Linked DNA regions of Homo sapiens. The protein of the gene in region 1 interacts with the protein of each later gene in a pairwise test. Each region holds a gene or a part of one and is shown on either strand. Other genes may lie near its edges. The genes, in order: JMJD1C and MYOM2.

Region 1 (3,825 bases):
GGTGTATCCCAAAGCTTTGTAAAAATTAATTTGTTTTAATGTGTATGAAGTATAAATATCTAACTTTCTAAATATTTACAAATAAGAAATAGCATTGAGTTTTTATATTAGGAAGTGTGCCATAACTCCTCACAGTTAAATAGAAATTTCAGGAGAGATACATCGTTAATATTTCAGAAATTAGCAAGAGAGGGCAAGCTTGGCTTTTTAGGTCACATATATCATAAACCCTAGTTTATACTCTGTCAGTGTTGGTCAGATAAATAACTGTAGGTCCACTATTCTTTATCTGCAATTCTGAAATTCAAATAGCTGTAGCAACTACATTTTTTAATGATTCATTTGGAAGCAAAACCTGATTGACTAAACTCATTTTTTAAGTAGAGCTTAATAGGAATTGAGTATTTCTTATAGGAGAAATATTAATGTGCTCCACTTTTAGGGTTCTGTTCTAAATCCTTCAGAGATGTTACATGTTGCCTAGGAACTGTGCTATATTACCATAGTTAACTACCATAACGTAAGGACTTGTACTATATTACCATAATCAACTACCGTAATGTATGCTATAGGCCAAGCGCGGTGGCTCACATCTGTAATCTCAGCACTTTGGGAGGCCAAGGCAGGGAGATCACTTGAGCTCAGGAGTTCAAGACCAGCCTGGGCAACATGGTGAAATCCTGTCTACTGAAAATACAAAAAGTAGCCAGGCGTGGTGGTGTGTGCCTGTGGTCCCAGCTCCTTTGGGTACTGAGGTGGGAGGATGGCTTGAGCCTGAGAGGTCAAGGCTGCATTGAGCCATGATCATGCCACTGCACTCTAGCCTGGGTGACAAAGTGAGACTGTTCCTCAAAAAAAAAATAAATAAATAAAAAAAAAGCTATATTTAACTTTATAAAAATCCAATAAACTTTTAATACCAAAATATGTTGAAAGAGTTTGGATGAGGGATTGTTATTTGAATACTAATACGATTTTTGGTGGTGTAGATTTAATGGCAACAAATACTGCTAATTTTATTTGTTAGGAGATTTGATAGTGATCATATGTCTGCCTAATTTCAGATAGTTTTTCCAGTGTGGATTTTAGCAGACTTTTTTTTTTTTTTAAAGACAGGGTCTCGCTCTGTTGCCCAGGCGGAGTACAGTGGCATAATTACAGGTCATGGCAGTCACTTTCTGGGTTCAAGAGATCCTCCCACCTCAGCCCTACAAGTAGCTGGTACTACAGGAATGAGCCACCATGCCTGGCTAATTTTTTTTTACTCTTTGTAGAGATGGAGTCTGACTGTGTTGCCCAGGCTGGTCTCAAACATCTGGGCTCAAGCAATCCTCCTGCCTTCAGACTCCCAAAGTGTTGGGATTAGAGGTGTGAGCCATGGCATCCAGCTTCACACTTTTATTAGATATAAAATTCTTAATCTGACAAAGAAAGATTTAGGGATTACGTACTTTTAGTTTTACAACTGGTCTTTACTAAATTGTTAATGTTGAAACATTGTCTGAAATTATCGAATTGGATAAAATCCCTTTGTGTAGAATTTATATTTTATATTCTAGCTAGTTTACGAAATTATTATCTTAAACCCATTGATGAAAATGTTGATTTATCTTATATTGTAGAACTATTGATTTAATTATAGAATACATGGCTAAGTAGAAAAACAGCAGCTCACAATCTGTTTACTGTTTTGTCTGGCAAAACAAAACTATGCATACTGCTGACTTACGAAAAACTGAAAAGAGTTTTTGAAATCACACAATCAGTAAGTGTCAGGGCAGGAATTTGAATGCAGATTTCTGATTTCAAATCTGTTATCTCTGTACTCTGCCATATTGCTTCTGCCAATGGTTTGTGATTCACAGACTCTCAAAGTAAAAACCCGAAATTCCCTTTAACTGTAATGTTATATATTCTTTCTGAGCCCTTTCTCTTTCTTCATTTCTATAGCCCTATGGTTTAAGTCCTCTTGGACTTTTATTTCTCCTTCCTTCCTGTCTGCAGTTCCTTTCATCTTCTTAATTTGGTATTTCAAATTCAGTCCTTTGCTTACTGTTTGTTGTTGTTGTTTTAATCTTGTTATTTCCTTTGTAGAATTTACTTGTACTATGTTGCATAATTACTCACAAATCTGCAATTAAAGTTTGGCCTTTTTTCAGTTTGATCCACCGTCTCTACTGTTTGGAAGCTTTACATGAATGTCCCGTGTGTGGGTTTGAAATAGTGTTTAAAGTATAATTTATTATCTTCATGTGAAACCAGCTGCCATTTTGAGATTTAATTTGAAGTTTCACCTGGGCTTGAAAACACCTTCATCTTAAATGTTTTTCCACCTTGAACGTTGGCATTAACTTAGTTCTGCAGATTTCTTCCTTTAAATTGGAACCTGCTTTCCCGTCTCCATTCTTTTCAATTTGTACTACCACTTGCTCAAAACCTTCCTTACTTGATTTATTTGGGTTATATCTATTGATACTTACTGTATTAAAAACTAAGCTGAAATTTTTAAAACACAAGAGCAGTTTTTCATAAGTCAGCACTATGCAGACATAGTTTTGTTTTACCAGACAAAACACAAGTAGTCTGCTGCTCTGAACACTGATGAAAGAATGAATGGAAAAGGCAAATAATGTCTTAGTAGTATTTTGAGAAGTTTTTATCTTACTAATCCCTTGAATAGATTTTGTTGCCCTGGAAACATTTGGTGAAGGTATCTGTTCATCTAATTCTCTTTAGTAGAATTATTTACATTAGTATCACTAAATAGTTAAATTTTAAGTTGAATTTGGCTTCTTCATTATTTCAGGTTTCTTCCAGTATTTTCTGTGTGGCTATATTGCTTATGAAAATTATGTATTTTGAACGTAGAAGGTTGCATGTAACATGCCAGAAAATGTTAACATGGCAGTAGGAATAGTCAGCATTCCTAGAATAGATTTCAGATTTTTTCAAAGCTAGAAGAGGTCTGTGTGACTAATTCATTTCTTGTGAAAGACTGACACTTAGGAGCTGAAACATCTGATCCATCTGTTAAAGTTAGGAGTTTTAAGATTCAAAAATCTTTAGGCTCAGAGGAATATCAAAGAAGGAAGCAGTATGTTAATGTTTGGTTAAAATTATGTGTTATTTAATATAAAATGACTGTATATTTAACAGAATTTATTTCCTCTCTATATTGTGATTCTATAGATGGAATCTTGATGCAATACAGGACTAGGAGAAATATTTGTATAAGAATTTAAAGTTGATGAACTATTCCAATGTGTTGAATAACATTATACTATTATTTGGTCTATGTTCTTTTTCTTCTTTAAAATCACATTGATAAAACTATGTAGAGCCTATTTTAGAGCGTTTCCACTGTTCGCTAGAACATTTTATTGCCATAATTTTCAAAATCTCTGATCATATTTTAATACCAAAGTGAATCATTTTGAGGGAAACCATTTTACTTTACATTGTTCATGTGAATTAAGAGAGTAAGTTGTGAATATGAATATAGACTATATGTATTTCACCTTTCCGTAACGGTTTTGAACTATACAAACATATACACATAGTTATATAATAGAAATAATTATTAAGACCCTTTGAACTACTAAGTATAACAAGGAAAAAAGCAAATATGCTTACAGTTAATATAATATTGCATTAAATTTGCCTCGATTTTCTCAGTCTTAAGAGCAAAATAAGAATTGTGATTAATTAAAATATCATTTATTTTCAGTGTTTTTTCACTAGGTTCTACTGCCTTTTTGAATTGCTTTCTTTGGTGTCTTGGAAAACTAAGTGACCAGAGGGTATAGGAGACAAGAAACCTGAGAG
Region 2 (3,825 bases), on another chromosome or scaffold:
TCGGTAGGAGAGAAGTTAATGGGTGGCAGAGTAAAGACAGAATGGGAGGCAATATTAGTGATTTGGCTACATCGATCATGGATGTGCCGAGATCAAGAATCCCTGCCTCTGGGGCTGGTGTGCACCTGCATCTTCCGGAAGCTTCTCGGGGATGGCCTCATACAGGATGGCAGCTCACGCCCCCATGGACACTGTTTGTGTAGCAGCAAATCTGCAATCTTAATGGGCTGATTGGAAGGCTGTGGTGAAGGGAGGGAGGGACCGCGGGCAGGCGTTCTGCAGCCCAGGTGCCTGCCTCATGTCACCCACACCCTATGTTTAGAAACGCTTAGGGTACTTTTATTTAGTTGCCATCCCTTGTGCCAAACAAAGCCAAACATTTGCAGCCCCTCCCAGCAGCCTTGGGGTGTCTCAAATCCCTCAAGATATATATAATCCTGGCGTGGAGCCAGAAAGACTGTGGCCGGCACTGGCTGGCTCTGAAGGGAGGTGGCACCAGCCACAGTGAGCTCAGGGAGAAAGCACCCCAGGGCGGGCATGTGCGGGGTATGGGTGTGGGCACACAGGGACACAGGCTTGGGTTTGCCTGTGTGCAAGTGTGTGTACACTTGTGTAGGTTTGTTTATGTGTGCACGCGCTGTGTGTATGCATGTGCATGTGCTTGTGGGAAGGCGTGTCCTTGCATTTATGCATTTATTTGCATACACATGTGTACGCATGTATTGTATGTGCATATGCATGCATGTGTGTGCATGTGTGCATATATGTGTGTAGGTGCATGCCTCTCATATGCCTGTGCATGTGTGTGTTTGTGTGTGCTCTGCATATACCAGTGGTTTGGGGTGTGTAGAGAGAAAGTGATGTGTGTCAGGATAAATTTCCATACTGTGCCTGAGCATGCATCTCCTAATCGTGTCCATGTTCCTGAAGGCGAGCTTCCACCCAGGCATCTTCCCAGAAGTCCTTGAGTCAGCGGTCGTCTTCACAGAGAGCCTCCAGCCAGACGTCCCTGGGAGGAACCATCTGCAGGGTCTGTGCGAAGCGAGTGAGCACGCAGGAAGATGAGGAGCAGGAGAACAGAAGCAGGTGAGCACATGGCTTCCCTGACTCCACTTGTGCCCTGCGTGGGGTCACAGTGGAGGGACAGTGGGGTGAGGAGGGAAGAGCGACCTTAGCTGAGAGGGAAGATCAAGGAACACAGGCCATGCCTGGGGTGAGAGGGAGAATGCTGCTGTTTCCCAATCACCTGCTTCTCTTTACCATCATTATCTCAATTAATCTGAACAAGAAAACTACTGGGCACCAGCTTCCCACCATTTTGCAGAAGAGAGCGTTGCTGTTCAGAGCGCTCACGCCACTGCCCAGGATTCCATGTCTCACGCATGTCCCAGCTGGGCTTAGAGCTCCAGGGTCCGTGGCTTCCAAGCCAAGCTCAGTCCCTTTCCAGACAGAGCAGGATAAGCACACATGAAAACATCAAGACCTAGCAGTGTGAGAGTAATTCTGAATTTCCACTTGCAACCTCTGTAGCTATGCAGGAACAGCCGTGGAGGGGTGCACATTCAAGCAAGGTCATCTTCCTAAGCGGGAGCCAGGGTTTTAAACAGTTGTCGTGTGGAAACTAAAGAGTTGGGAAGGGATTCTATAAATTGTCATGCTTTACATTTCAACAGAGGCAGCTCGTGGGGTGAAATGTCATGGGAATGGGATGGATTAATAAAAATGCCAGTCTTAAAATTATTTCCAGATGACGGAGAAACAGGTGGTGATATGGCTTTGATCTTTTAAGGACAAAGTGAACAGTTAAACGTTCGCGGGTGCCTTGTTTTATACCTGCTGTATTTTTTCCCTCATCTCCCCCTGCTACTTCTGGGAATTTTCTCTATATCTTCAAAGCATTTAAAACCTGAAGGAAAAATAAGATTTGAGTAAACATCTTTCATTTTGAAAGTTTCAGAAAGATGAAGTCATCTGTTGAATATAAACAATGTATAGCCAAGAAGGTTAACGAAGGTTAACATTTATTTTTAAAAAATTGAATTTTTTTAAATGTCATAGGATAATTTTGCCATGTAAATGAATTCTAGTGTAAAGTGAAGATTTCTTTTGTGAAAGAATCTCTTTGAAATGTAGATGTTAACACAATCCAGATTTTTATGTATTGGATTAAAGGGTTCTTCTACCTATATTTAGGTTTTGGGGGCTACAATAGAATACTTGAGCTTATCATTTTATTTTTATCATTTAAACATTGATGTGAACTTGAACATATTGCATAAACTTCCTATCGCTCAATTTCCCTGCTGGTAAAATGGTAACAGTGAGTGGCTTACTGTGATTCATATGGTTTTGGCAGCAATGACTTTCAAGACAGCCTTGGCTGCTGGAAATTGTCCTAAAACACATTGGTCTATGCTCTTGCAATACCAAATCTGACTCAAAGAAGGGATTTGAGTGACTGGTGAAGGGGTTATGTTCTCACGGCACCTCTGATCCTCACGTTAAATGCCAGTCTGTCTTAGACGTAGTAGAGACGGGGGACGAAGGCTAGGCACTTTCTCAGCTTTGTGTGGAGCCCACGGCTCATGCTCTCCATGAGATTTTCTTCAGCAGCCCCCGAGTGTTGTATTCTCCTAACCCATGTGCATGTCTTCCATGGGGAAGATCGTTTTGAAATCAGTTCTTTCCTCCTTTAAAGGTAAACATAAGTCGTGGGGATCTCAGTGAGTTGGGCAAGTTCTAATTGAGATTTATTGTGAAGCCTGCTCTATCACCGTCATGCAGAAGGGCCCAGGAGGGATGAGTGAGCCCCGTGCTGAGTGATGTGAGCAGCTCCATGGATTCCAGCCCTTATTAGAATTCACCACTCTCACGGGCTGCAAGCATCATCACAAGCATGTATTTATCCCTGACCTCCCAACGTGGATATTAGTTTAGCGTGCTGGACAAGTTGGTCCTTTGCAAAAGATGAAATTGTGGGCTCACTGATGTGAGTTACTGCTGATGTCCCTGTGTCAAATAAATACTGAAGAGACATTGGCGCTCTGAAGGCACTCAACACGTCCTTCTGGAAGATACGACCCCGATGCTCTGAAGGCACTCAACACATCCTTCTGGAAGATATGGCCCATTGGAAATGTCCCTCTGACATCTTCCTTCAGTCCCAGTGAAAAATGGGCCTCCCTGAATCTTGCAAGCCACCTGTCCCGGGGCTTGTCATTTACAATCAGTGCATGACAAATGACGTTACTGTGCACACGTGGGCTGAAGTGACGGTCAACTGATCATCAGCCGGCAGAAATATTTCCTCAATGTCCTGACTTGGGGTTGGCTGTGGGAGGAATTCCAGACCAATTAGTTATTCTGAATCATGGAGGGTTAGAGGATAGTGGTGCTATTGACCTAAGAATAAGCTGAGGCTCTTGTTACTCAAACATAAAGAGCCCATAGAAAAGTAAACGGTGTCAAGAGAGGACATCTGAACCTTTAAACTCATCACAGTGCTGCGTGGCGCAGACCAAGCTTTGTCTTCTCGATCCCTGCAATTTGGTGGGATTCACTCCCCTGTAAGAAGGCTTGTTCCCTGCAGGACATCTGACGCCATCGTTCATTTCTTGAACACATATTCCTAGAACTCCTCCTGGCACCTGGCACCTGGATACTGGGGAACCAAGTACCTGGATACTGGGGAACCAAGTACCTGGATAATGGGGGAACGAAGTACCTGGATACTGGGGGAACCAAGTACCTGGATACTGGGGGGACGAAGTACCTGGATACTGGGGAACCAAGTACCTGGATACTGGGGAACCAAGTACCTGGATA

Evidence for each region.
Region 2: the proteins of JMJD1C (region 1) and MYOM2 interact in a two-hybrid assay, tested with the Homo sapiens proteins (one large-scale study listed by BioGRID and IntAct).

The regions. Positions count from the first base shown.
Region 1 is NC_000010.11:63,455,768-63,459,592, reverse strand, and holds part of JMJD1C (probable JmjC domain-containing histone demethylation protein 2C), read left to right. Parts: intron 1-880; exon of another isoform or gene 881-3,825. UniProt on the Homo sapiens protein: Probable histone demethylase that specifically demethylates 'Lys-9' of histone H3, thereby playing a central role in histone code. Demethylation of Lys residue generates formaldehyde and succinate.
Region 2 is NC_000008.11:2,051,228-2,055,052, forward strand, and holds part of MYOM2 (myomesin-2), read left to right. Parts: intron 1-930; coding exon 931-1,086; intron 1,087-3,825. UniProt on the Homo sapiens protein: Major component of the vertebrate myofibrillar M band. Binds myosin, titin, and light meromyosin. This binding is dose dependent.